Homo sapiens: one gene and its partners. The protein of the gene in region 3 interacts with the protein of the main gene of each other region in a pairwise test. Each region holds a gene or a part of one and is shown on either strand. Other genes may lie near its edges. The genes, in order: TMPRSS2, ASGR2, SLC35A1 and SLC34A2.

Evidence for each region.
Region 1: the proteins of SLC35A1 (region 3) and TMPRSS2 interact in binary tests that used the Homo sapiens proteins (3 or more experiments, as listed by UniProt).
Region 2: the proteins of SLC35A1 (region 3) and ASGR2 interact in binary tests that used the Homo sapiens proteins (3 or more experiments, as listed by UniProt).
Region 4: the proteins of SLC35A1 (region 3) and SLC34A2 interact in binary tests that used the Homo sapiens proteins (3 or more experiments, as listed by UniProt).

What each region holds. Positions count from the first base shown.
Region 1 is NC_000021.9:41,477,150-41,484,176, reverse strand, and holds part of TMPRSS2 (transmembrane protease serine 2), read left to right. Parts: intron 1-3,574; coding exon 3,575-3,701; intron 3,702-4,894; coding exon 4,895-5,005; intron 5,006-7,027. UniProt on the Homo sapiens protein: Plasma membrane-anchored serine protease that cleaves at arginine residues. Participates in proteolytic cascades of relevance for the normal physiologic function of the prostate.
Region 2 is NC_000017.11:7,104,814-7,111,840, reverse strand, and holds part of ASGR2 (asialoglycoprotein receptor 2), read left to right. Parts: intron 1-2,952; coding exon 2,953-3,069; coding exon of another isoform or gene 3,070-3,105; intron 3,106-3,283; coding exon 3,284-3,379; intron 3,380-3,933; coding exon 3,934-4,005; intron 4,006-4,523; coding exon 4,524-4,610; intron 4,611-4,689; coding exon 4,690-4,841; intron 4,842-7,027. UniProt on the Homo sapiens protein: Mediates the endocytosis of plasma glycoproteins to which the terminal sialic acid residue on their complex carbohydrate moieties has been removed. The receptor recognizes terminal galactose and N-acetylgalactosamine units.
Region 3 is NC_000006.12:87,496,965-87,503,991, forward strand, and holds part of SLC35A1 (CMP-sialic acid transporter), read left to right. Parts: intron 1-3,543; coding exon 3,544-3,703; intron 3,704-4,193; coding exon 4,194-4,346; intron 4,347-7,027. UniProt on the Homo sapiens protein: Transports CMP-sialic acid from the cytosol into the Golgi apparatus, functioning as an antiporter that exchanges CMP-sialic acid for CMP. Binds both CMP-sialic acid and free CMP, but has higher affinity for free CMP.
Region 4 is NC_000004.12:25,672,828-25,679,252, reverse strand, and holds the end of SLC34A2 (sodium-dependent phosphate transport protein 2B), read right to left. Parts: intron 6,167-6,425; coding exon 5,999-6,166; intron 4,958-5,998; coding exon 4,841-4,957; intron 4,749-4,840; coding exon 4,624-4,748; intron 3,119-4,623; coding exon 2,504-3,118; 3' UTR 505-2,503; downstream 1-504. UniProt on the Homo sapiens protein: Involved in actively transporting phosphate into cells via Na(+) cotransport.

The DNA of each region.
Region 1 (7,027 bases), on a different chromosome or scaffold from region 3:
ACAGCGGATATCCAGTCATCACGCTGTACACATTAAACATGTACAATTGGGTTTTTTTGAGACAAGGTCTCCTTCTGTCACCCAGTCTGGAGTGCAGTGGCTCAGTCATGGCTCATTGCAGCCTCGACCTCCTGGGCTCAATCCATCCTTCCCCCTCAGCCTCCTGAAAAGCTGGGGCCACAGGCATGTACCATCATGCCAGGCTAATGCATATATATTTATATTTTTTGGTGGAGATGGGGTTGGTCTCGAACTCTGGGCTCAAGTGATCCTCCCGCCTTGCCCTTCCAAAGTGCTGAGATTACAGGCATGAACCACAGCACCAGGCCTACATGTAAAATTTTTATTTGTCAACTATACTTTGACAAAGCTGAGAAAAAAAATCCTAATATTTAAAAAAAAAAAAAAAAGGACTAGCTTGAGACCTTTTCCAGCTCTCTGGCTTATCAGCTGCCGTCTCTTCCGGGTGCAGATAGCTGGAAGGGAAAGAAAATCCCTAAAATTACCCACAAGCCAAGAATGAAGTGTCTCCCTTTGAGCCACAGTGGCAGTTTTGTTTTTAATCATAGAAGTGTATTTTGAGCCGGGTGTGCTGGCTCACGCCTGTAATCCCCGCACTTTGGGAGGCCGAGGTGGGGGGCGGAGGGGGTGGGGATCGCCTGAGGTCAGGAGTTCGAGACCAGCCTGACCAACATGGAGAAACCCCGTCTCTACTAAAAATACAAAATTAGCCGGCGTGGTGGTGCATGCCTGTAATCCCAGCTACTCATGAGGCTGAGTCAGGAGAATCTCTTGAACCCAGGAGGTGGAGGTTGCGGTGAGCTGAGATCATGCCATTGCACTCCAGCCTGGGAACAAGAAAAAAAAAGAAGAAGAAGAAGAAGTGTATTCATTTCAGTTACTTTTAAAAAAGTGAACAGACTTTATATTTTAGAGCGGTTTTAGGTTTACAGAAAATGAAACAGACAGGGCAGCGAGCTCCTTGTACTCCTCCCCAGCACACAGTTGCCCTGTTATGAACATCCCACATCAGTGCTGTGCGTTCATTAACACCGATGAACCTGATGCATACATTATGATGAACTGAAGTCCTGGACTTCACCCTTTCTCTTGTACAGTTCTGTGGGATTTGACAAATGCATAATGCTGTACAGCCACAATGATAGTATCGTCCAGAGTAGTTCTCCTGCCTTAAAACCTCTTTTGCTGCACCTGTTTCTCTCTCCCCACTCACCCCAGCTATCTGATCTTCTTAGTGCCTCCGAAGTTTTGGTCTTTTCAGGATGTTGTAGCGTTGGAATCATGGAGTATGTAGCCTTCACCACATACACCTTCCTTCACTTTGTTGGCTTCCTTTACTTAGTAATATGCATTCAAGTTTCCTCCATGCCTTTTCATGGCTTGATAGCTCATTTCTTTTTAGCACCAAATAATATTCCGTTGTCCAGATGTAGCACAATGTTTATCCATTCATGTAACCTGTGACCGACTCACAGATAGGATGTGGAATCACTCACCACAGAGGCATTAGACAATAATCAGACCCAAGTCATTTCATGGGGGAACAAGCCCACAGGTACCAGACTGTCCAGTGAGTCAGGGCCACTCGTAGGAAGTAAGAAGAGAGGCTAGAGCATAGCCAGGTCCTCACTTTATACTTTAAGCCCATGTGTATTTCTCCCAAACCACACAGCATTGTTTCCATGCTTTCAGCTTTGCATGAATAACGTGATACTTGAACGCATCATTTATCACTTGCTCTCTTTCCCACAGCGCTGTTTTCAAGCTTCTTCCTGTTCATGATGCTCTGCTTAACCCTTAAGCTGCATGGGATTCTGTTCTGTGAATACGCCCACCCCATGTATTATCCTGCCCAGCAAAAAGTCCCCAAAACTCTGGATGGTGGTTACCTCTAGGGAGGGAGAGAAGAGATTGGGAATAGGGAGCGACTTCAACGGTGTTTGTAATGTTTTGTTTCTTTAAATAAAAGAGCTGAGATCATTTCAGCAGAATGTTGATTTAGAGTCTCCTGGACAATTTGTTGCTCAAAGTGCTCTCTTAAAGAGCACTTTAAAAAAAAAAACCTTTTATCTTATTATTTATTTATTTATTTATTGAGACGGAGTTTTGCTCTGTCACCCAGGCTGGAGTGGAGTGGTGTGATCTCAGCTCACTGCAACCTTTACCTCCTGGGTTCAAGCAATTCCCCTGCCTCAGCCTCCCAAGTAGGTGGGATTACAGATGCGTGCCACCACACTTGGCTAATTTTTGCATTTTAGTAGAGATCGGTTTCTCCATGTTGGCCAGGCTGATCTCAAACGCCTGACCTCAGGTGATCTGCCCGCCTTGGCCTCCCAAAGTGCTGGTATTACAGGCGTGAGCTACCATGCCTGGCTTATCTTATATATTTTTAAAAACAGCTTATTGAGATCTAATTTATGTACCATAAAATTCAAGTATATAATTCAGTGCTTTTATATATAAAACATATATATGAAATAGCTTATTGAGATATAATTTTTTATATAAAACAGCTTATTGATATGTAATGTATGTACCATAAAATTTAAATATATAATTCACTGGCTTTTATATATTCACGAATATGTGCAACTATCACCACAGTCAATTTTAGCATATTTTCATCAGCTCATAAAGAAACCCCAAGCCCTTGAACTATCACCCCATATCCCTCCTCCCAGCCCGTCCCTCCTACTCATAAGCAACCACTAATCTACTTAGTGTCTATAGATTTCCTACTCTAGGCATTCCATGTGAGCGGGATCATGCAATACGTGGGCTCACACAATATAAGTGGCATTCCATGTGAGTCGGCTCATGCAGTATGTCCGGCTCCTTTCACTGAGCATAAGGTCTTCAGCACTCATCCAGGTTGCAGCCTGTGTCTGAATTTCATTCCCTCTTCTGGCTGAATCGTATTCCATTGTGTATCTTGGACATATCCTATTCTGCTCACCCAGCCGTTGGTGGGCGTTTGGAGTGTTTTCGCCTTTCAGCTGTTTTAAGAGGGTTGCAGTGAACATTTGTACAAGTTTTGGACCCAATGCCTGTTTTCAATTCTCTTGTGTAGAGAGCACTTTTTAGCAGAAAAAGAATAGATTTGTGGCCTCCCTTTGTGTGCGGTCAGTGCCTTGAGAAGAGTGAACTGTGCTGCCACCTCCGGAGCCGTGGAGAGCGCGGGGCTTGGGTAGCAGCTAGGACGATACAAGTTGGGACAAGGCCAGGTGCAATGGCTCACGCCTGTAATTCCAACACTTTGGGAGACCGAGGCAGGGGGATCACCTGAGGTCAGGAGTTCAAGACCAGCCTGGCCAACATGGTGAAACCCCATCTCTAATAAAACAGAAAAATTAACTGGACGGGGTGGTGGACGCCTGTAATCCCAGCTACTCGGGAGGCTGAGGCAGGAGAATCACTTGAACCTGGGAGGCGGAGGCTGCAGTGAGTGGAGATCAGACCACTGCACTTCAGCCTAGGTGACAGAGCGAGACTCCGTCTCAAAAAAAAGAAAAAAAAAGAAAGAAACTCATGGATAATCCTCCCTCTCGTGCAGTTCGCCTCTACGGACCAAACTTCATCCTTCAGGTGTACTCATCTCAGAGGAAGTCCTGGCACCCTGTGTGCCAAGACGACTGGAACGAGAACTACGGGCGGGCGGCCTGCAGGGACATGGGCTATAAGTGAGTATGGGGCAGCACCCGCCGAGTGACAGTAACAGACAGCAGAAACACGAGAAGACCCTCTCTCTGCCTCCCTGTGAAAGCACCGGCACATGAGTGCTGGGGACAATTGTCACCTTCCAAAAGCTGAGCCCTATAACCAGCAGGTGGAATTTGTCCTGCTAGGGCTGTGCCCAGCACACAGACCTTGGCTCACTGCCACCTTGCCCTGCCTCCTCCTTGGCCTCTATAGACTCCTGGTTGCTCGGGAGTGCCCAGTGCTGTGGTCATCTGGTCAGAGGGGTAGGCTGAGGGCGTTAGGTGCCTCTTTTTCCAAGGTGCCTCTCAGCCAGGGTCCATTCACCTCCCTGGGTAGAGGTTGGACCAGAACAGCTGGCGAGGAGGGTTGGGCTGGGGAGAGCAGCAGAGACAAATCCTGTGCCAGTTTCACTTCATTCGGGAGCCATGGAAGCCTTTTGAGCTGGGGAGAGAATCAATCAATCAGACTGATACTTAAAAAATGTCATTCCTGCTCGTAGCTCTGAGGGAAGGTGGGAAGGCTTAACAGGGTGTGTGTCGCCTGACAGTGATTCCTAACGGGGGTGGGGCGGTGGTTACCATTTACCAGCACTGCCTGGGGAGATGCGGCAGCCCTCAGGCATCGGGGGAGAGGGTGGTAGGATGCTACTGCCACTTTGTTTTCCATGGGAGGGTCCCCAGGTGATTTCTATGCAACTTTAGGGTATTCAATATGCCAGTTTTCAGAATGAATTACCACTCGGTGAGAAAGTTGGCATCTTAGCTAGTCACTGTGACATCCCTAAACAGCAGGGGTGAATTACACAGCAAAGCCCCCCCATCACAGTCCAGGAACCTGGTGGAATTGATAACTGGGGCCATGTTAACATCTGTACCTTTTATTAGATTAAATGTGTGTATGATTATACAATCCTATGTCCTTCTCATAGTTTCTTGATCCTAACCTGGATAAGAAACACGACCAATGAAGGAATTTTGTCTGACACTTTAGGGTTATTGAATCGAAAAATCGTTACAATATTCTAGCACTTGGTTAGAACGTGTGATTTTTTTTCCTAAATGCTAAGGTTTTTCCCTCTTATTCTGAATGTCGTATGAGCGGTATTATGACATAGTATAGGATTTGTGTTTGCTTATGCCTTAACCATTATCACAAATAAGGTTTTCTTTTTTAGGAATAATTTTTACTCTAGCCAAGGAATAGTGGATGACAGCGGATCCACCAGCTTTATGAAACTGAACACAAGTGCCGGCAATGTCGATATCTATAAAAAACTGTACCACAGGTATGCAGCAATTTCTTCTTGAAAAATTTTGGAATGAAATCAACTAGGAGACACCATGGGGAATCGTTGTCCTGAGTCTGATTTCTCTGAGCTGCAATACTCGGTCTGGATGGGTTTTGCATTGGGAGGAGATTAGAGTCTGACCAGGCCTGGTTACTCTAAGCAGCCCTTGGTTTATTCATAGGAAGTGGCTGAGGTTTCTCTGCTATTTCATTTTCAGCCTCTACCGTCTGCCCTTGTTGGTAGCGGCTCACACTTGCAACATCGACATTCAACTCTATTTAGTTTTCTTTCCTCTTCAGACATTTAGAGGTGTACCTATTTTGTCAGGGCGTGGTTCTAGGAATCCAAGATAATGTCTCAGTGTCCCAGCCAGGGTGACCGGCTCATTCCAGTTTGCCAGGGACTTCACTGGCTTGAGCAAGGGAAGTCCTGCTCCATTCCAGGCAGCTGGGCTGGCTGGTCCCGTTAGCCCCAACCCCGGGACAGCAGTGCCAGAGGGTGCTCTGTGAGGGATGGGCAGCATTCTGGCGGCCTGGGAATGAGTTGTGGTGTTTCCAGGGGGTAGAAGTGGGTACAAGCCACAGGTCACATGATGAGTGGCTGACCTGGCTGGGAGGGCAGAAGAGGGGATGGACTTAGGCTCTTCCTTTTGCTTTGCACATATTTAGGATGTTTGCAGACTTGCTATGATTGTTGCTGTTATGTGTTTTCTGATGTGAAAGATACACAGTGTCCTTTGCCCATGAGCTCTCCTTGCCTCCCAGGTCCCCAGGGCTTATGCCTGGTGTCTAGGCATCACCTCCCTGCCTGCCAGGTGCCAGGTGCTGCATTTCGGGGGAGGATGAACTAATCACCCCGCGCCACCTTTCCTCTGAGTGGGAGCCTGGGGCAGGTTTGCATTCCTGGAGGCCGCTGGTGGAGGGGTCTGGGGGCCTGACTTCCACTGCAGCCTGCTGTCCTGGGGAATGTGGCAGGGCAAGCCCAGTGGGGAGGGCTGTGCACGGCCAGGTGCACCCATCAAAACAGCAGGGCTGCGGTTTGTCCCTGTGGAGAAGCTAAACACAGCTGCCTGGGCACTTTGTAAATGCTGAGTGGTTCTTTGTCTTTCTGGGTTACACACGGAATCAGGGAGCCAAGTCCAGCCGGGCAGGGACGGGGGGAGGGGAGGAGGTGCTGCCGTCCCTTGGCAAGAGCCTTGGGAACTCACAAGGAGGCTGGAGGGCTTGGAAGAAAGAAGAGAAGGCCATTGTCTGGTAGGCTCTATTCTATCTCGGTGGTGGTGGTGGGGGGAGGCGCACTTCTTTTCCTCTTTCTGTGCAGCAGTTGCCCTTTGATGCCTGAGTTCTTGGCTTGTTTTCTGTCGGGCTTCTGTGAATAACCACATGTGCCCTGGCGCTGTGACCACACAGGGCTATCCCTACCGACCTTAGGATTCTTAGGAAATGTCTTCTCTTAAAGGGGACATGTCTTCACTTGGCCGTGTCAGTGCCCCAGAGCCAGAGTCCACCTGGAATGCACCTGTAGTCACTGAGAACCCGGGGGGTGTGCCTTAGTAAGAAGGTGTCAGGAAGGACCTATTATTGTAGGGCCTGGGCTCCTGCAAGGTGGTTTGGGGGTGGTTGGAGGAAGCAGAGATTTGCTCTGGATTGGATGCTGTCAGGAAGCAGGGGTAATTCTGTGAGGCTGCTTTATTATTTTTTTTCTAGGAGGAGGTTGGAATGAGGCTAGGCTAAAGCTGTGATTGGTAAAGAAACGTCCGTCGCTCAAGTTAGCCAGGACAGGAGGAGACATCAGATCGTGATTTTGTGGTTGTGAGCACAAGGTTCCTGTTCTGTCTGTTCAGACATCATTTCGGAGGAGGCTCCTTGTGTCTTGCCCCATCTCAGGCATGGAGGGGCCTAGTCCGATATTGACGCTCAGTGAAATAATTCAGGTTCCGCAGAGCACACGGCCCAGCTATCAGGGCGGGCCAGCTCTGCATGCCAGGGGCCGCGTCTTCCCTTCTCAGCATAGCCTGGG
Region 2 (7,027 bases), on a different chromosome or scaffold from region 3:
GCTGCCCAGACTAGTCTTGAGCTCCTGGGCTCAAGTGATTCCCCCCGTGTCGACCTCCCAAAGTGCTGGGATTACAGATGTGATCCACAGTGCCTGGCCCTAAATTTTTCTTACGCATTTCTCATCTTCCATTATTTCCATCCAGTGTGTTTTTTCTTTTCTTTCTTTTCTTTTTTTTTTTTTTGGAGGCGGAGTCTCGCTCTGTTGCCCAGGCCGGAGTGCAGTGGCGCGATCTTGGCTCACTGCAAGCTCTGCCTCCCGGGTTCATGCCATTCTCCTGCCTCAGCCTCCCGAGTAGCTGGGACTACAGGCGCCTGCCACCACGTCTGGCTAATTTTTTGTATTTTTAGTAGAGATGGGGTTTCACCATGTTAGCCAGGATGGTGTCGATCTCCTGACCTCATGATCTGCCCGCCTTGGCCTCCCACAGTGCTGGGATTCCAGGCGTGAGCCACGGCGCCTGGCCAGTGTGTTTTTTCATTTCAGACATTGTAGTTTTTATCTCTAGAAGTTCACCTGGGGACTCTTAAATATCCTCCACAATTCTACTTAATTTTTTGAACATAATGGGATATGGCTATAATATCTGTTTTACCATCCTTGCCTGCTAATTCTAGCATCCGTGTCAGTTCTGGATCTCTTTTGATATTTATGAACCTCCTCGTTATGCATTGTGTTTTCCCGTTTCATTGCATGCCTTGTAATCTTTGATTGGCTGCCAGACATTGTCAATTTCACCTTGTTGGGTGCTGGATATTTTTGTATTCCTCTAAATGTTCTTGAGCTTTGCTCCGGGATGCAGTTAAGCAACTTAGAGTCAGTTTGATCGTTTGAACTCTTAATTGTTTTGGTCTCCTCGGACTCTCAGCTCCATCTCCTCAACGTGGGGAGTCTCTTGGGCTCTGCCTGGACTTCCCTTTCCTGGCCTGTAACCTGCAGACTCTCTCCAAACAGTAAGCTGGGGTGATCGGAGGGTTCCTGTTGTTTGCTTCTTATCCCTCAGGGATCTTTACTCCTCCTTGCCTGATGTCCAGAGTCTTGAAAGCTGCCATGTTCTATAGTTGTCTGTTTTTGTTTTGATTGTTTCTGGGGAGAGAAGAACTCTTCCCATCTTGGGCAGACCCTGTCTTTTATGTTCAAACTTTTGCCTAAGAAGCACATTACATATTTTAACTCATCTAATTATCCGAGCAATCCAATCGGGTAGCTACGACTGTGATCTCCATTTTACACACGAGAAAATGGAAGCATGGAGAAATTGAATGCTGGTGCATGATCTCAGAGCTACCTGGAGGCACAGCTGGGCTACCCTGTGGGCAGTCTGGTTTCAGGGTGGATATACAGACACGTTGCTGGGCTGACCCAGCATTGGGAGTTGATAAGTCGGACTGGGAAGCAGGACAGGACCCTCTGAGTGGAGGGTGCTGAAGACAGCAGTCAGGGACTCAGCCATGGAGGGCCAGCTTGGTGGGGAACACCGTGGTCATGGAGCGCTTCTGGATGGAGAGGAATGCAAAGGCCTTGGAGGAAGGGGTGGGGGCAGTGAGAGGGAGGGTGGGGCTGTGCTCAGAGCGGGAGTGGGCAGTGGAGGTGTCAGAGGCCTCCCTGGGTCAAATGGGGTCCTGAGTGTGGCTGCAGTGGGGAAGGTGGAAGTCACTGGTGTGAAAAAGATGAAGAGTTATGGACAGTCACTTACAGGGGCAGTGTCTGACTCAGGACAGTGGCAGGAAGTGACCTGGGGAGGAAGATTCTGGGCCCCTGACTGAGCCTCCCCAGGATGTGGTCCTGCTGGGTCGGGGGGTGATAGGAATGAGAAGACAAGGAAGTCCACAGAGTCAGGGTCCAAGGCCTAGAAGGTGTTCTGTTTGCAGGTGGATGCTGCAAAGAGAGGAGCTCAGGGCTGGGACAACTGGAGCTGCTCTGGGTCTGGAGGCAGCAGAGAGGGAGCCCAGCTCTGTGTGCAGGAAGACGTGGGTGTGTGAGTGTACGTGTGTGGGTGTGTCAGGTGTGTGTGTGTGGGAGGGAGTATGAATGTGTGCATTAGCATGCATATGCACATGTGAGAGTGGGTACAGCAGAGCGTGGTCATGAGTGTGTGCAAATGTGTGTTTTTGAGTGAAGTGAGCAATGTGTGAGTGTGTGAGTGTGTGTGAGTTTGTGAGGGCATGTGAATGTGTGTGTCAGTGCTGTCAGGGTGCAGATGGATCAAGGGGCAGGAGAGGTACCTGTGAGATGACCTCGGGCTGAGGGGAGCAAATTTAGTGTGGAACGAGGTTTCTAGGGAAGCGAGGGCAAAGGGCGCTGGGGAGGAGGCCTTGCGTGGTGGGGGATGAGGACAACAGGTGGGACCTGGAGGGTTGTGCTTGGAGAGTGGGCTATGGTGGAATGACCCAGATTTAAGGATCTCAATGGAATTTTGGCAGGGGAGGGACTGTTCCAGTATGGATTTTAGGAAGAACACAGGGCCCAGCTTCTGGAGTCTCCAATCTGAGGGGACAGGAGCCTTAGAAGAGCTGAGACTAAGGCCCGAGGTGATCTGGAGGCCTCTGCCACTGGCTGGATGGGAGGAAAACCATTCACAGATCCCCCTTCTCAGGATGTGTGCCTAGGCAGGGCCGGGTCTGCCCCCCCGCCCCCTGTGCGTCTCCCAGTCCCCCAGCTCCAGGATCCGGGCTTTGCACACAGCTGATGTGAATATCCTGAGTCGTGTGCATGGGTGTGTGTGCACCAGATTAGCTGCGTGTGTATATTTATACATGGTAATATGGGTGCGAGTGTGTAAGAGTGTGTGTGTAATGCTCAAATGCTGGGGTCAAAGCCTATGATGACCCCCCCCCATGGCCCCAACCAATCCCCCCGCCCAGGTTATGCCTCCTCAGGCTTCGGTGCCCTGTCTTTACCCTCCGGCTCCCCACACCCAGGCTGCCGGCTCCTGATGCCCCTCTCCCACAGGGCCACCTCCTGCCCAGCCCCTGGCACAGCGTCTCTGCTCCATGGTCTGCTTCAGTCTGCTTGCCCTGAGCTTCAACATCCTGCTGCTGGTGGTCATCTGTGTGACTGGGTCCCAAAGTGAGGGTCACGGGGGCCAGCAGGGATGGGCAAGGGGTAGGGAAAGAGACATGGGCAGTGGCGGGCAGCGATCGGGGCGATGGGAGGGGAAGGGATGGAGGCGGGGTGGAGCACAAGCTGGGGCAAATGCGGGGACATTGAGGGGCCAGTCACATGGACAGTGATGGGGACACGGCCCCTCTGCCTCATCCTGCCCCCACTACCACCTGACAAGGTGCACAGCTGCAAGCCGAGCTGCGGAGCCTGAAGGAAGCTTTCAGCAACTTCTCCTCGAGCACCCTGACGGAGGTCCAGGCAATCAGCACCCACGGTGAGGGGCTGGACGGCTGGGTTCTCATTTATCCGCACAGGTTTGCTGGGCTCAGTGCCGAGTCTGCAACAGGGCTGTGTGGGGTGCCGTGGGGGTGCAGGCTGGGCAAGGCGTCCAGGGGCCCTGGGGGATGTATAGGAGGGAGGCAGGTGGGGACGGACGAGGTTAGTGCCAGGTGGAGAGGTTGGATCTGCGACACCCGGAGGTGAGGAAGGCACCATGTCTTGGGCCTGTGAGCAAATCGAGTGTGGCAGGCCCATCGGAGGGGCAGGCAGGTAAGGGGTGGCCAGAGAGAGGTGGGGAGGGGCCCGGCCACGCAGGTGAGCCGTGCTGACAGAGCGAGGCTTTATTTTGAGAAAATGGGGACCCATTGAAGGGACTGAAGCAGGAGAGTGGCCTGAGCCACTGTGGCAGTGCAGGGAGCCTGGGTGTGGTCCAGGAAGCCAGGAGGTGGACGCCTGCATCGCCCAGGACGAGGCGCTGGCCCCCGGTCCCCCAGCAGCATGAGGACGGAGGGAGGCTCAGCGGGGAAACAGCTGGCTTTCCGCTTCCAGGAGGCAGCGTGGGTGACAAGATCACATCCCTAGGAGCCAAGCTGGAGAAACAGCAGCAGGACCTGAAAGCAGGTCAGAGAGCCTCCGGGGTGTGTGCGCATGTGCGTGCATGTGTACGTGTGCGGTGTGTGTAGTGTGTACGTGTGCGGTGTGTGTAGTGTGCACGTGTGCGTGCGTGCGTGTGTGTGCCTGCAAGCATGTGTATCTGTGTCTCTCTCCGTATGTGTGGTGTGATATGTCATGGATCTGTGTGTGGTGTGTAGTGTGGTGTATATGTGTGTGTTGTGTGTGTATGCATGTGTGGTGGTGTGTGTGAGATGAGTCTGTGTGTGTGCGGTATGGTATATGTGTGTGTACGCATGTGATGTGTGTGGTGTGTCTCTTGGTGTGTTTGTGTGTGTGTGATGGATCTGTGTGTGGTGTGGTCTATGTGTGGTGTACATGTCTGTGGTGTGTGTGTGGTATGGTGTGTGGTGTGGTCTATGCATGGTGTACGTGTCTGTGGGTGTATATGCTTCCCCAGCCACAGGCTGGAGCCTAGCAGGTGGGGACCACACCTGCCGGCAGCACTTTCAGCCTGTCTGTCCTAGATCACGATGCCCTGCTCTTCCATCTGAAGCACTTCCCCGTGGACCTGCGCTTCGTGGCCTGCCAGATGGAGCTCCTCCACAGCAACGGTAGGGGTGGGGCCGTCTCCAGGCCCAGTGTGCCTGCCCCTCCGGCTGGATCTCATCTCCCTGCCCCCTGTCCCCTCAGGCTCCCAAAGGACCTGCTGCCCCGTCAACTGGGTGGAGCACCAAGGCAGCTGCTACTGGTTCTCTCACTCCGGGAAGGCCTGGGCTGAGGCGGAGAAGTACTGCCAGCTGGAGAACGCACACCTGGTGGTCATCAACTCCTGGGAGGAGCAGGTGAGGCCACGCTTCCCACAGGCAGGAGGAAGCCCTTGGAAGGCCTGCTCTGGGAGGCTGGATCAGGCTTATTTTATCCATTTTTTTTTTTTTTTTGAGATGGAGTCTCGCTCTGTCGCCCAAGCTGGAGTGCAGTGGCACGATCTCGGCTCACTGCAAGCTCCGCCTTCTGGGTTCACGCCATTCTCCTGCCTCGGCCTCCCAAAGTGCTGGGATTACAGGCACGTGCCACCATGCCCGGCTAATTTTTTTGTATTTTTAGTAGAGACGGGGTTTCACCGTCTTAGCCAGGCTGGTCTGGAACTCCTGACCTCATGATCCGCCCACCTCCGCCTCCCAAAGTGGTGGGATTACAGGCGTGAACCACCGCGTCTGGCTGAACTTCAAAGTATTTTAATGCCACAGTAGTTAAGCCATATGATACAGGGGCCAGAATATATGTATTGTTTGCATTACATCAGGCTCTGTTAGTACTTTACAGCATACTGTGAGTACGAACATATTTTGCTTTACTGATCAGGTTGAACTTGCCAACATTTCATCAGTTTTGACCTATAAAAATGTCAGTTTCATGCAGTTCAACCTAAGATCTCAGTGCTCTGTGATTTGGCACACAATAAGCTCATGACCACTACAACTTCGTGGTGGACGGTGCTTTCGTCACTATGAAGCCAACGTGTGTCCCAGTTAATGCTTTTTGCCTTGAATTTATCTGATATATAAATACCACGGTCCTTGATTTTTTTGTCACTTGCATTTGCTTGCTGTATCTCTGTCCATCCTTTTGTTTCTTACCTTTTTGAATCTCTGTTTTAAATTAATGATTCTCAGTCTTGACTGTACATTGCAATCTCTTCAAGAGTTAAAAAAAATATATCGACTCCTGGATCTCGCCCTTAAAAATGCTGATTTAGGCCGGGTGCAGTGGCTCACGCCTGTAATCCCAGCACTTTGGGAGGCCGAGGTGGGCGGATCATGAAGTCAGGAGTTCGAGACCAGCCTGGCCAAAATGGTGAAACCCTATCTGTACTAAACATACAAAAATTAGCCGGGCATGGTGGCGGGTGCCTGTAATCCCAGCTACTCAGGAGGCTGAGGCAGGAGAATCACTTGAACCCGGGAGGCAGAGGTTGTGGTGAGCTGAGACTGCGCCATTATACTCCAGCCCGGGTGACAGTGCGAGACTCTGACTCAAAAAAAAAAAAAAATGCTAATTTAAATTAATCTTGGCTTCATCCTGGACCATTCCCTGAGGGGCAGCACAGGGCAGCTAAGCTTAAGGTATTTCTCCTATATAGGTTTTTTGTTTTGTTTTGTTTTTGATACAAGATCTGGCTCTATCGCCCAGGTTGGAGTGCAGTGGCATGATCTCAGCTCACTGTAACCTGTGCCTCCCGGGCTCAACGGATTCTCCCACCTCAGCCTCCCAAGTAGCTGGGACTACAGGTGCACACCACCATACCTGGGTAGTTTTTTGCATTTTTAGTAGAAATGGTGTTGTGCCATGTTGCCCAGGCTGGTCTTGAACCCCTGGCCTCAAGCGATTCGCCCGCCTGGGCCTCCCAAAATATTGGGATTACAGGTGTCTGAGCCACTGTAATCCAAAAACTGCACCTGGCAGGTTTTGTTTTTGATGTTTAAAAATCTAATAAGTACCTTTTCTTTTAATAGGTGAGTGTCTCATTTACATTCTAATAGATATGTTTAACCCTAGTCCTTTCTTTTTTCTGCTTTACATGCTTCTTAATTTTCTTACAATTGCTATGTGAGAGGTGTTCTTTTTGTTTTCTTCTTTATGGTATTTTGGAAACTATGTAGTTTATTTAGAGTTATTCCAGTGATTACTTGTATAACTTTAAATAATAGGCTGAAAATTATTGGCTTTGAAAACTAAAAGTTTGTATAACTTCCATAGGAAAGGTGAGGAGACCAGGATACCTCTTATTCCCATGTGTCTGAGTCTTTCCTTTCCTAGGTTCCTTAAGTGTTGTATCTGAAAAAAAAAAAAAATTTTTTTTTTTTTTGAGATGGAGTCTTGCTCTGTCGCCCAGGCTGGAGTGCAATGGCGCGATCTTGGCTCACTGCAACCTCTGCCTCCCAGGTTCAAGCAATTCTCCTGTCTTAGTATCCCGAGTAGCTGAGATTACAGGCACCCGCCATCGTGCCTGGCTAACTTTTATATTTTT
Region 3 (7,027 bases):
TTTATGTAACTTCAGTGAGTAAAGCTAAATATAAGATTAAGAGCTGTATTCTTAATAAATACATTAACTTAAGCAGGATTTAACCTGATTAATACTGAAATTATTTACCCTCTTCTTTAAAACTTTCTGTGTGGTGAGATTCCCACATATTCTTTCCAATACCTCCTAAATCTCCTCTACTTTCTGATACTTTTCTGTTATTCTCTTTTACTAGTTCTTTTAGCATCCTCTGTTTTTTTTTGTAACTTATTTCAAAATATCTTATGTAACATTGCTATAATCTTTGGTACTACAGTGATATTTGCACTTTCCAGCAATTAACATTCTGGTATACCTTGGTTTCTCTAATGTCTACATTAGAGAAGGAACCAGAAAAAGATACCTTGGCCATCCTGACCGTGAAAAAATAGCTCCTAAGCATCCAACAAAAAGGATATGGCCAAAAGAGACAGATCTGAAGGTTAATCCTGACGCACTGTACTTTACTTTTTGCTCCACTGAAGGAAAGGAATACTCAGATTGGCTGCTAATTTGTTTCATAAGCCCTTCTTTTTATGTGAAAAGTGAGGGAGAAGTGATAAGAAAGAAAAGAGTGGGGAGAAAAGGGACCACAGCAGCCTTTATTGGTGCAGGTATCGTGATTATTTGGAGTAGCAGTTGGATCCTTAAGTAGCCCATATTCTGACAGGACAAAGAGAATCAGCCCTGTTTTTTGGAGAGTCAAAAGGTCGTTTGTTACCAGTGAAGGCTTCTAATGTCTTATTTTTTTCTTTTTTTTAAAAGAGATGGTATCTTACTCTTTCACCCAGGCTGGAGTGCAGTGGTGGCATCATAGCTCACTGTAGCTTCAAACTCCTGGGCTCAAGTGATGCTCCCACCTCAGCCTCCTGCGTAGCTGGGATGATAGGCATGTGCCACCACTCCTGGCAGTTTTTTTTTTTTTTTTAAGAGAAGGGATTTTCCTCTGTTACTTGGGCTGGTCTCCAACTCCTGGCCTCAAGTGATCCTCTTGCCTTAGCCTCCTGAGTAGCTGGGATACAGGTGTGAGCCACCACACCCACCAAGGCTATAATATATTTAACAGGTGGAGGTAAAGTGGCATTGCCCATAGCTGGGGATTAGGGAAAGGATAAATAGCCATTATATTGTAGCTTTTGAGGGTTTAGCATGAAGAATCTTACACCAGGAGATAAATGAATATGGGAGAAGGTGGAGTGTGAAGCATGGGCACAAACAGCCACCTCTCAGCAGTTCCTTCTGGGTATCACCTTAAAGACACATCATCAGTGTATGAGTCAGCATTTTAGAAGGGCACTAAAACTTGCACTTCATACAGTCTGTAAAATTTATATCTATGCTATCATGATACTAGAGATAATTATAATGTTCAGTTATCTTCTCTGATACATCACCTTATTAAGGTGATTATTTTACATTTTAATCTCTTTTTCTCTAATTTTTTCATCAGTTTTATAATTGAGGAGAAAACATTTTGAAAATTATTCTTTATACTCTATTTAAGATGTTGGCCAGGTGCAGTGGCTCATGCCTGTAATTCCAGCACTTTGGGAGGCCGAGGCAGGAGGATCACTTAAGGTCAGGAGTTTGAGACCAGCCTGCCAACATGGAAACCCCGTCTCTACCAAAAATACAAAAATAAGCCGGGCGTAGTGGCCTGTGCATGTAGTCCCAGCTACTCAGGAGGCTGAGGTAGGAGAATCCATGAACCTGGGAGATGGAGGTTGCAGTGAGCCGAGATTGCACCATTGCACTCCAGGTTGGGTGACAGAGAAAGACTCCGTCTCAAAAAAAACAAAACAAAACAACAAAGATGTAAGGAAAGTATATGGGGCATCTTAGATTTGCATTAAGCAGTTAAAAAAAAAGGCAAACATTAGTTTAAAGAGCCAATCTTCAGAAGCCTGGAAAACTCTCCTACATAGATTTTTTGGTGGAAAATCTGTGGTATTTTTGGTATTCTTCTGCTTTTCGAATAGAGTTTGTAGTCCACCACTAGGCTGTGTGCGTTCCTTTTCAGCATATAGACTTAACACTGTGGTGTGGGTTTGGATTTGGTAATACAAAGAGATCTGTAACTAAGAAGGATGTCTTTTGTTTCTGTGGCTTAGGTCAAAGTTCCTGTCTTATTAATTAAGCATTTTCTTGGAGGTAGAATGTTCTACAGCAAATAAATAGGCACAGGTTAGTCAATTTAATATAATGGACTTTTGCTTTCTCTCAGAACTTGGGCAATTATATTTGCAGCATTTAAAAATGAAAAAATTCAACTCACAACTGTTGATTCTAATATATTAACCAAAAATACAGAATCTCATTGTAATTATCAAACTTTGAGTTGGAACAGAGCTATTTCACCAACAAAGTATTATGGTTTTCTTAAGGATATCGTGAGCTGCAGTTAGGACCATTATTATAAAGCACTTCTTTTGGGGTATTGGTGCTTATTATAAAACATTGCTTTATTTTTACTTTCAGGAAATCAATGAGCTGATTTATGATACAGGAAATACAAGCCAGATTAGCCACGTCCTTCTGAAATAATAATAGCAAAAATAATAGTTAAGAGCATGCATAATCAATATGCAGTCAAACAGTAAACTTTATGTACATTAGAGATATAGTTTACTTTTGTTGGAGTTAGTAAATTATTCAGATCTGCTACAGAATTATACAGATATAAAGTATGAGAATATTCTTACATAAGGATTTATTATCTACTATATTTCATAAGTACTAAATTCATTTATAAATAATACTGACCTGACTCTTCCTAACCCACTTAACGAACTACCAAAGCCTTTTTATTTGCAATTAAATCTATTGTAATTTAAAAAAAACTTTAAAAATAGGCCAGGTGCAGTGGCTCACGCCTGTAATCCCAGTACTTTGGGAGGCCGAGGCGGGCAGATCACTTGAGGTCAGGAGTTTGAAACCAGCCTGGCCAACAATACTAAAAATACAAAAAATTTAGCTTGGTGTGGTGGTGGGTGCCTGTAATCCTAGGTACTCAGGAGGCTGAGGCAGGAGAATCACTTGAACACGGGAGGTGGAGGTTGCAGTGAGCTGAGATAGCGCCACTGCACTCCAGCCGGGGCGACACAACAAGACTCCATCTCAAAAATAAATATAAAAATAAAAATGGATATGCAAACTGATCAATTAAAAAGTAATCAGGGTGAACTTGATGAAATAGTTAAAGTAGCAGGGGATGAATTTTTTTATAGGTAATATCAACAGTTTTCCTAATCTCATTATTCAATATACTCAGAATCTCTCAGAGCTTTGACTAGAGATAGTGGTAAATCTAGTTGTTGTCATATTTTCCCAAACAGAACTATAATTTTTTAAAGAGGATACATTATTGGTATGTTTCTTTTAATCTAAAACTAGTTAGAAATTATTAGTTTGCTAAATTACAGCAAGCATAGTATGCTTGTCCTGTGTTTGAAGAAGTCTTATTAAAATAATACTCTTTAATTTTCTTCCTTACCACCCTCTCATCTCCCCCTTTTGTTTTCAAAGAGAAACTGGTAGTCTGGGTAGATTCAAAGCATCTTTAAGAGAAAATGTCTTGGGGAGCCCCAAGGAACTGTTGAAGTTAAGTGTGCCATCGTTAGTGTATGCTGTTCAGAACAACATGGCTTTCCTAGCTCTTAGCAATCTGGATGCAGCAGTGTACCAGGTAAGTGGAGTTAATGATAATGAAAAGCACAGAATCTTTTATGGTAAAAAGAGTTTTTATTAACTCTTTATCATATTATCAATTTTTTTTTTTTTTTTGAGATGGAGTCTCGCTCTTTCGTCTAGGCTGGAGTGCAGTGACGTGATCTCAGCTCACTGCAATCTCCGCCGCCCAGGTTCAAGCGATTCTCCTGCCTCAGCCTCCCGCGTAGCTGGGACTATAGGCACATGCCACCACACCCAGCTAATTTTTTGTATTTTTAGTAGAGATGAGGTTTCACTATGTTGGCCATGATGGTCTTGATCTCCAGACCTCGTGATCCACCACCCGCCTCGGCCTCCCAAAGTTCTGGGATTACAGGTGTGAGCCACCGTGCCCGGCCATTATCAAATATTTTTTATTGATAATTTTATCAATGATACCAGAAATAATATATTTGTATCAGAGACTAACATTAACTGAATTTATTAATTCATTCTCTTTTTTTTAGGTGACCTACCAGTTGAAGATTCCGTGTACTGCTTTATGCACTGTTTTAATGTTAAACCGGACACTCAGCAAATTACAGTGGGTTTCAGTTTTTATGCTGTGTGCTGGAGTTACGCTTGTACAGTGGAAACCAGCCCAAGCTACAAAAGTGGTGGTAAGAAACAAAATGCACACCATAACTTCCCATAAATAGAAAACTTCCTTAAGTCTTATACTGTTCAGTTACATTGATGCATGCAGCATGACTACATTTCTTTGATTTAAAATAACTTTTGCCTTATAGATAGGCCTTTTTTCTTTAGCATATTATTAGGGATAATAATACTTATTGGTTGTTTCTCAGAGGAGAATATGCATAAAATATGTTACAGATGGAACATACCTTAGAAATAATGTGTTCCATCCCCTCCATTTTATGGATGACAGTCCCCAAAGAGGTGAAGGAACTTGTCCTAAATTAGTTAATAGCTAACTTGTGACCACAACTGTGCCAGTTTCCATACTGTATATGTTTAGAACTTCTAGACCTCTTTCAAACATCTCAGAAACACTGGGCAAGGTTTTTCTGCATCTAGTTTTCATCTTCTCTCTCAACTGTCAGTCTCTGGCACATCTCCCTACTGTCAGTGATCAGGATGACAAGGGAAGGAGTGTTCTTACTGATAATTGATAATTATCTTTAGTTTTTAAGAGTTAATGTGAAGGTACATAACAGATTTTTAAAGAGTTAACGCTAAGATACATACATGATTTTTTTTCTTACATTGTATGCCTCAATCAGTTATTTCCCCAAAGAGAAACAGGAAATGGGATGCCAGTGAATAGTTTTGTGAAGGTCAGGAGTTTCCTACAGTTGAATATTTACTCTAACTTTTAGCAAACAGACTATGGTTCTCTTAGGAATGGAAGGCGGCTGGGATGTACAGTGCTTGTGAACAGTATCATATCCCCACCCTCCAGGTCCCCTCCTTCCCCAATTAAAACCCTACTGTTTCTTTCTATAATATGGTTTCTAGACAGACTTCCTGATCCCTGCCTTCTGCCCCTACACTTTTCCTTATATTTTTCTCCTAGATGCATTCATCTGTCATTATTTCTCAATATATCCTAAAACCCCACTGTCTCCCAATGTTGTCTAAGTAATACGAGGCACAGTTTGGTAATTACCCCTTTGTTCTGAATACCGGAGACTTGTTATACAGTCATGCATCGCTTAACAAAGAATGTAAGTTCAGGGTTCTGAGAGATGCATCATTAGGTGATTTCACTGTTGTGCAAACATCATGGAGTATACTTACACAAATCTAGATGGTATAGACTACTTACTACACATCTAGGCTGTACAGTATATAGCCTATTGTTCCTAGGCTACAAACTTCTGCAGCATGTTACTGTGCTGAATACTGTAGCGAGTTGTAACACAGTGGTAAGTTTAGCGTACCTAAACATAGAAAAGGCACAAATATAGTTTTATCTTACAGGACCGCTGTTTTATATGTGGTTCATCATGGACTGAAATGTCATTATGTGGTACATGACTGTTAATTTCTGGGGGGCAGGCAAAGTATCTATTTTACAATTGATCATAAACCACTACATGTAACTGTGTCACCCAAATAGTTTGTCTCAAATGTATCTTGTATCCCTCTCACCCCACTGTTCCCTCAATCTGTCTGCACTGCCATGCACTCCTCCACTACTGGTTAAGTGGGTTCCAAGTGTCAGGACTGGAATAGACTCTCATTGACACTAGAACTCAAACTCTGGCTTATTCTAAACCAGAATGCAGGTTGAGTTTGTATTTATTAAGCTCTTCTTGTTAGCTTTGGGTCATTGCTCAGCCCCTTGAGTTATTTCCAGTTCTTACCCATTATTAGCTTCTCCTTTGGGTATTACGCTTTCCAGAGTCAAAAAAAATATGCCTTCTGGGTCTTTAATGAAAATTTTAGGTAGAACAGGACCAGAGTTCTGTGGCTGTACCTTTAGAATTCTCTCTAGCTTGATCTTTTTCTTGCTTACTGAACATATCATCTCTCATAGTTTTTATGGGTCAGGAATTTGAGGGTGCCTTAGCTAGCTGGTTCTGGCTTGAGGTTGCAGTCAAGATACTGGCTAGGGCTGCAGTCAACTGAAGACTTGACTACGGCTGGAGGATCTGTTTCTAACGTGGCTTATCTATATGCCTGGCAAGTTGGTATTGGTTGATGGCCTAGCTTGATTTTGTTCAATTAACTACCATTTTTCTGTATGAGCATTCACACACTTACGGATTGTACCTTTATCCTCACTACAGTTCTGTGTTGTCTATAAAAATATTATGTGGCTGGTCGCAGATCACCAGGTGAGGAGTTCGAGACCAGCCTGGCTAACATGGTGAAACCCCGTCTGTACTAAAAATACAAAAACTTAGCTGGGCGTGGTGGCAGGCGCCTGTAATCCTAGCTACTCAGGAGGCTGAGGCAGGAGAATCGCTTGAACCTGGGAGGCAGAGGTTGCAGTGAGCCGAGATCGCGCCACTGCACACCAGCTCGAGTGATAGTGCGAGACTCTGTTTCAATAATAATAATAATAACAATAATATGCAAGTCTGTCACATTTTTTGCCAAACATTATCTCTATGGAATTCCCCTCATCACTTAACATTAGGAGTCCTTTCAGTAAGGAAATCTGGTATGTTTCACACTTGGTGAAGTCACACTATTTTCCACTGATGACCATTAAGCTTTTTAAGTACAAGTCATCTCTAAATCTGTTCTAACATTTTGCTGGTAATCAATGTAACAATAACAGCTGCAATCATTTATAATGCACTAAATACTAGCATTATCTAAATGC
Region 4 (6,425 bases), on a different chromosome or scaffold from region 3:
AACAATATAAAATGACACTTTTCTCCAGGTTTTTGAACAAGAGGCTCCACAAATTATGCAGCTGGAGGGTCAGATGGTAAGTGGTGGGTAGTGACATTCAGTGAAGGAAGAGACCTCACATTTTTTTTTGTTCGTTTTGTTTTGTTTTTTCAAATGTTTATTTTATGTACAAAGAACTATCATGGTTTTTCATTGAGTAGATGACTTGGATAATCCTTTGAAGGAAGATCATTTAGTCCAACTTAATGAAACCGATATCCTTCGCGTACTGACAGAAACATTGGCGGCACTTATTGAGGCCATATTTCCGGATCAGACCGTGCTGGTTTGAATAGACACGACAAGAACGAGAACCCTGGCCGAATTTTTTTGGGTGGCTCCAGTACAGCTGCTGGTGACCCATCTTGCTCCTAGCAGTGCAACGAGGTAAAAGGAGACCTCACATTTTTATAAAATAGATCCAAGGAGGTCCCTATTTCCCTGTAATTAAAAACAACACACTCCTTTTGGGTTTGATGATTTTATTTCTCCCTTCCCATAACCAGTAAAAAAAAAAAAAAAAAAATTACAATCAGGCCTGGTGGTGGCTCACGCCTGTGATCTCAGCACTTTGGGAGGCTGAGGTGGGCGGATTGCTTGATCTCAGGAGTTTGAGACCAGCCTGAGCAACACAGCGAGACCTGGTCTCAAAATTATTATACAATCAATGCAAGTACAAAGATTCAATTTTTAAAAATCACCAGAGTACAAAGACGGCCACAGCCCCTGCCCGGGTTTAACTTACATATATACAGAGTGGGCGGGGCAGGCATGGCCACAGAGGTGGTATTACAAAATATACAAAGTGGTTTCTTTCTTTACATTTCATAGAAGAAGCCTGCCTCATTTCCAAATGAGAGCACTAGAAGCACAAATCATGCAGACCATTTACTATATAACTTATGAAAAATGCTGTACAGGGCTGTGACTATAGATATAGAGTATTTGGCTCTGTTTGGGAATTGATATCTACAAGGGGGAGGGTCAGGGGAGGACTGTCTGATATCCTGACTTGCTGGGATGGTGGAGAAGCTGGGATGGGGGAGGCCCCAATCTTGCTGCACGGCTACACCCACTCCTCCTTTCCTAGATAAGGCTGGAGCGCACTGGCCAGGAAGAATTGGGATGGCTGAGGGTGGGGCGGGGGCAGTGGTGTAATCAGGCAGGAGGCTGTGGAAGGCACAGAGAAGGCATCTAGGATGAGAAGGAACACACCCCTTTGACCCATGCACACACGTGTGCTCGACTGTACTTAATGATCCCAGTTCACTGGGCAGTCCAGTTGGGTACAGCTTTCCCCAAAAATCTGGAGCTTTGCAGGCATGGAGAGAGGACAGCTAATCAAAGCCCATCTGTGGGAAAATGGAAAAATGTTTGGAAAGAGATTCCAGTGGGTGGGTGGATGGAAAGAAGGAAGTTAACCCAGGAAGTCATCTTGCACAGAAAGTAAGGAGGCAGAGAGGGGTGGAGAGCTATTCCAGGTGCAGATACTCCCTGGGATTCAAGGTGGCAGCATGCAGGCTACGAGCCTGGATAACTTGCACGTTTTATTTCAAAAGATCCAACAGGGAGGGCTTTTGTTATCTGACCAAGAGAGGAGCGTTAGACTTTAGCCACAATGCTTTTGAATTGGGCTTCTTAGTTTGCTAAATTAAGAATCTGGGGCCCTTTTGGCAGAATGCTATGCTACTCATTCCTCACTTTCTTCTCCTCCATCTGCCCCACTCTCTGTCTCTTAGGAAGACAAGAGCAGCAGGTGAGCACATGTATCCAGCCTGAACTCTAGTTCAGGCGTGGCTCCCATCCCCGAAGCATGAGGACAAGGAAACTGCAAGTGAACTGCCTGGACTAGCACACCTGTCCACGTGAGGAAGCCCTGATGGGGAATGTGGGGAGCACTAGGAAGTGGGATAGACCCACACCTTGTGGTCTGCAGTTTCCAAACAATGACACTATGTCCCCTGACCCAGGCTGATCTGGGGCAAGGAGGCCATGGAGCTGCTGCTCTTGGTTGCCAGACTTTGGTTTAAAAAAAGGGAGAGGCCTGAGCTTGATAGTCATAGAGAGTACACTTCCTCATCTGGGAGAGCCTCTCATACATTCCTTCCCTGGGCCTTTTCTTTCTGAAGATGGTTTTTGAGTCTGAAAATAGGTTCTACTGACCAACCCAGCTAGGCGCAGGATTAGACATCCGTCCCGCCAGGTTCATTCTCTAATTCTCTTTAGGTACCATCCTGTGCCTTCCTGGAGTAAAAGATTACTGAGTGACCAGGGGTTGGAATAAAAGTGCCCTGCAGGCCTACCACCAAGCCAAAGGGAATCGAGTTAGGTAGGACTGCATCAATTTCATTCGCTAATGGGGAGCAAATCTCCTCGAGGTGGTGAAAGGGTGCAGAAGTGGGAGGGAGGAGAGCATGCAAAACTCAAGGACCATCCCCCCATCCCTGACAATCTGGGGCGTCCCCTACAAGGCCGTGCATTCGGTCTTTGAGTCCGAGGCAGGGACCTCACCCTGAGCCTCTCTGCTAATGGTTATGTTATCAAAGGTCTCAGGAGCCTTGACAGGGACATCCTGCCCCTCCTGCGCCTCCTCCAAGTCCTCGCAGCACTTGCTGCAGCGGCAGCACTTGGGGCAGTCACACAGCAAGCAGCACGCGCGGCAGCACACGCGGCAGCAGCAGCAGCAGCGCATCTGGAAGCAGCCGGTGAACTTGGAGACGACGGCATCCCAGGGCTTCAGCGAGCGCATCCACAGCGGCAGGAAGTTCCAGTTCTGGAGTTTCTTCGGCAGGACGCGTGGGCAGCGAGACTGCAGGAGTCGGAGGCACAGTACCAGGATGATGATGAAGACGACGGGAACCCCGACACCAACCAGCACCCGCCAGCCGGCCAGCGAGAGGCCAAACACCGTCAGCGGGATCAGGAAGAAGAAGATGATCAGGTAGAAGACGGCGAACCAGCGATACTTGGCAGAGATGTTGCCCAGCCCCTTGGCCATGCGGATGGGCAGGCGAGTGAACGGGATCGGGTACCACAGCAAGATGCCGGAGATGTTGAAGAAAAAGTGGCACAGGGCGATCTGCAACACAAGAGGTTGGACAGGTGAGGGGCCTGTTGCCCAATGCGGGTGGCAGTAGGGAGGAGGAGGGGGAGGTAAGCTAGCAGGCATCACAGGCAGCACAGTCTCGGGCCTTCCAGGCCTTCTTTGTCCTTATGGCTCAGCCCAGAGGGTACCTGGATTCCATGAGGACCTACTATGTGTCTGGGAGGGCCAGGAGCACTCAACTGTGCATTATCTCAATTCTCAAAAAACACTCTACAGAGTGGCAACCATTATTTCTTGACATGAGAAAATGGAGGCTCCTCAAGTCCCACAGGTGGGAGATGGAAGAGGTGGAAATTCACATCCTGGGAGCCTGGCTCCAGAGGCCAGGCGCTTGGTCACTTTCCCAAGGTGCCAATTTCCATGCCCAGGCTGTGGACCAGCACTGTCCAATACACTAGCCGCATGTCCACACTGAGATGTGCTTTAAGTATGAAATACACACCAGATTTCAAAGACTCTCAATTTTTGACAGATGACATATTAAAGTGATAATGGTTTAGATCAAATACATTATTGAAGAATGAATCAGCCTGTTTCTACTTTTAAAAATGTATCTACTAAAAAATTTTAGGATGACATATGCGGTTAATTTATATTAGATGCCTGAATTTCTATTTCTGTTGCACAGATGGCTTTGCCTCATCAGATCTTTATAATAATCCTAATGAGATAGGGGTTATGTCCTCCATCTTTCAGATGAGGGAATTGACGCTCAGGTTAGATCACTTGCCAAAGGTCACTTAGTATGTAAATGGTGAGATAAGAATTCAAATCCCCGGCTGGGTGCAGTGGCTCACGCCTGTAATCCCAGCACTTTGGGAGGCCAAGGCAAGCACATCATGAGGTCCAGAGTTCAAGACCAGCCTGGCCAACATAGGGAAACCCCGTCTCTACTAAAAATACAAAAAATCAGCCAGGTGTGGTGGCAGGTGCCTGTAATCCCAGCTGCTCGGGAGGCTGAGGCAGGAAAATCACTTGAACCTGGGAGGTGGAGGTTGCAGTGAGTGGAGATTGTATCACTGCACTCCAGCCTGGGCTACAGTGCGAGACTCTGTCTCAAAAAAATAAAATAAAAATAAATAAATAAATTCAAATCCCAAAGGTCTTGCACAAAGTAACATAGATGGTCCATGCCAAGGAGTTCTCCTAATTGTAAAGTTCCCCATAGGAGGCAGTGAGGAGATGGGAGGTGGTGTCTGTGCTTCCTAAGTACCTTTTCCACATCTATATCAAGGGGCCACCCCACTTTTGCTGAAACAACCACCAGTTATGAGGGTCTTACTGCTTCTCTCAGAACTGATAGTTTTGATTGTTCTCATATCAAGGTCCTGAAAACTTTACCCGTGGCTTCCCCTCCACATATTAGTTCCATATTTTGGATAGTACAGAGAAAAGCCTGGCTCTTGTTAGAGACCAGTTTGCAAGACCATGGGTGGTCCCACTCCCAGGGCCCCTGTCCCCGTGCCCCAAGTCCTGACCTGGAGTGAACTCCTCAATGCATTGCCAGGGCTGGCTAAGGCGGCCAGGATGGCGGTGGTGGTGGTGCCGATGTTGGAGCCCAGCGTGAGTGGATAAGCCCTCTCAATGGTTATCACGCCGATTCCTGGGGGAAACACAAAACACAAACATATCAGCCCCATGGGATGACAGGAAATGGCAGTGGTGGCCAGAGGGAGAAGCCAGGGTGTAACTCACCAATCAGGGGGGTCAAGGCCGACGTGAACACAGAGCTGCTCTGTACGATGAAGGTCATGCCTGCCCCGACGAGGATGGCCAGGTAGCCAGTCAACCATGCAAAGGGAAAGGGGAAATCTGGAAGACAGAAGGAAGAGATGTCATGGCCTCTCCGGGGAAGGTATGGCCTGGTGGCCTGGGGTAGGGGCTGGGCTTAGGGGTGAGGTTGTACATCATCCCATATATGGTCTCAGATTACAGAGTAGAGTTTTAGAATCCAGTTTCATTCCCCATTGTCTTTTGCTCCGCATATTCAGATGGAAAAACCAAGGATACAGGTAAGTGTTATGAAAACAAAAACACAGATTCCCTGGAGGTCAGGTTAGAAAGAGTGAACCCACCCAAGTAACCACTCTCCTTCCAGAAAGTGCTGAGAGCATGCTTCCTCGCCTGCCCTGGTCTCCTGTCAGCACCCACATTTGACCTTCAACCTTCATTTCTGCCTTAAAGAGCATCAAGAAACTGTAGCAGCTTGGAACATGCCTGCCAACTGAGTCCTCCACCCAACTAGCACCGGATCAGGCCCTGCATTTCCCAGAAGCACCCAGAGTTGCTCTGTTCCCCAAGACAATCTGGGGTGGGGGGCGAATTTTCTTGGCTATATTTCACTGAGCTTTCATGAAGTGATGATGTCATTGGCTTAGCGAGCTCTCATTGGCCAGGACACCCTACTTGGCAGGAAATCCTCTTAGCCAGCAGTCTCATTGGCCACCTCTAGATGCTGATGTATTTATGCATCACATTTCCTTTACAAGAGTGAAGGGAGGTGGGGGCGAGGGCAGACACCTGGGGTCCTTTTTCTAAGGGGTCTTGACAGAGCCAGTAAAGCTCTGAGCATACAGGAAACCCGCTAAGAAGGAAGGCCTGACTCACAGCTCTCTAGATATGAACTCCTGCTCAGGACCTTGCCAAGATGCAATGGAAACTTGGGCCTGCTCCCTAGACCCCACCCAGGATGCCAAGAACATTTCCAGGTGAATGACATCCTCACTTCTGGTGCTGATCCAATCTGAGAGAGAAACTCCATGCAGAGGCCATTGCTAGATGGGAATCTAAAGGACCCCCACACCCCATGCAGTGACTACATGTGAGGCCTACAAGTGAGGGCAGTGTACCTACCAGTGTTGATGGTCTTCTTGATGACAGTGGCGACCTGCCCCTTGAGCACAGAGCCCAGGATCTTGACAATCATGATCAGGCAACCACAGAGGACCAGCAGGGAGAGTATGAGCAAGATGGTGCCCACAGCAAGATCCGGGAGGTGGAAATTCACAAAGATATGCTGGCCTGAAAGACCACAAAGAATCTTGTCAGGAGGGCATGGAGCCACCACGGCTACAGATTGTTATTTATTCCCCCAGATCCTGTCTTTCCTACAAACAGATTCCTGGTTGTTAGTTTAACAGATGGCAGCCCCAAATCAAGACAGCCCTTCTCAGCCTCCTTCGCAGCAAGGGGCACCACTGAAACTATGTCATAATCAGTGGGATCGCATGAGGCTGGAAGATGAAGTGATGGCTTTAAAAATCACACAACTGTTCAGGGG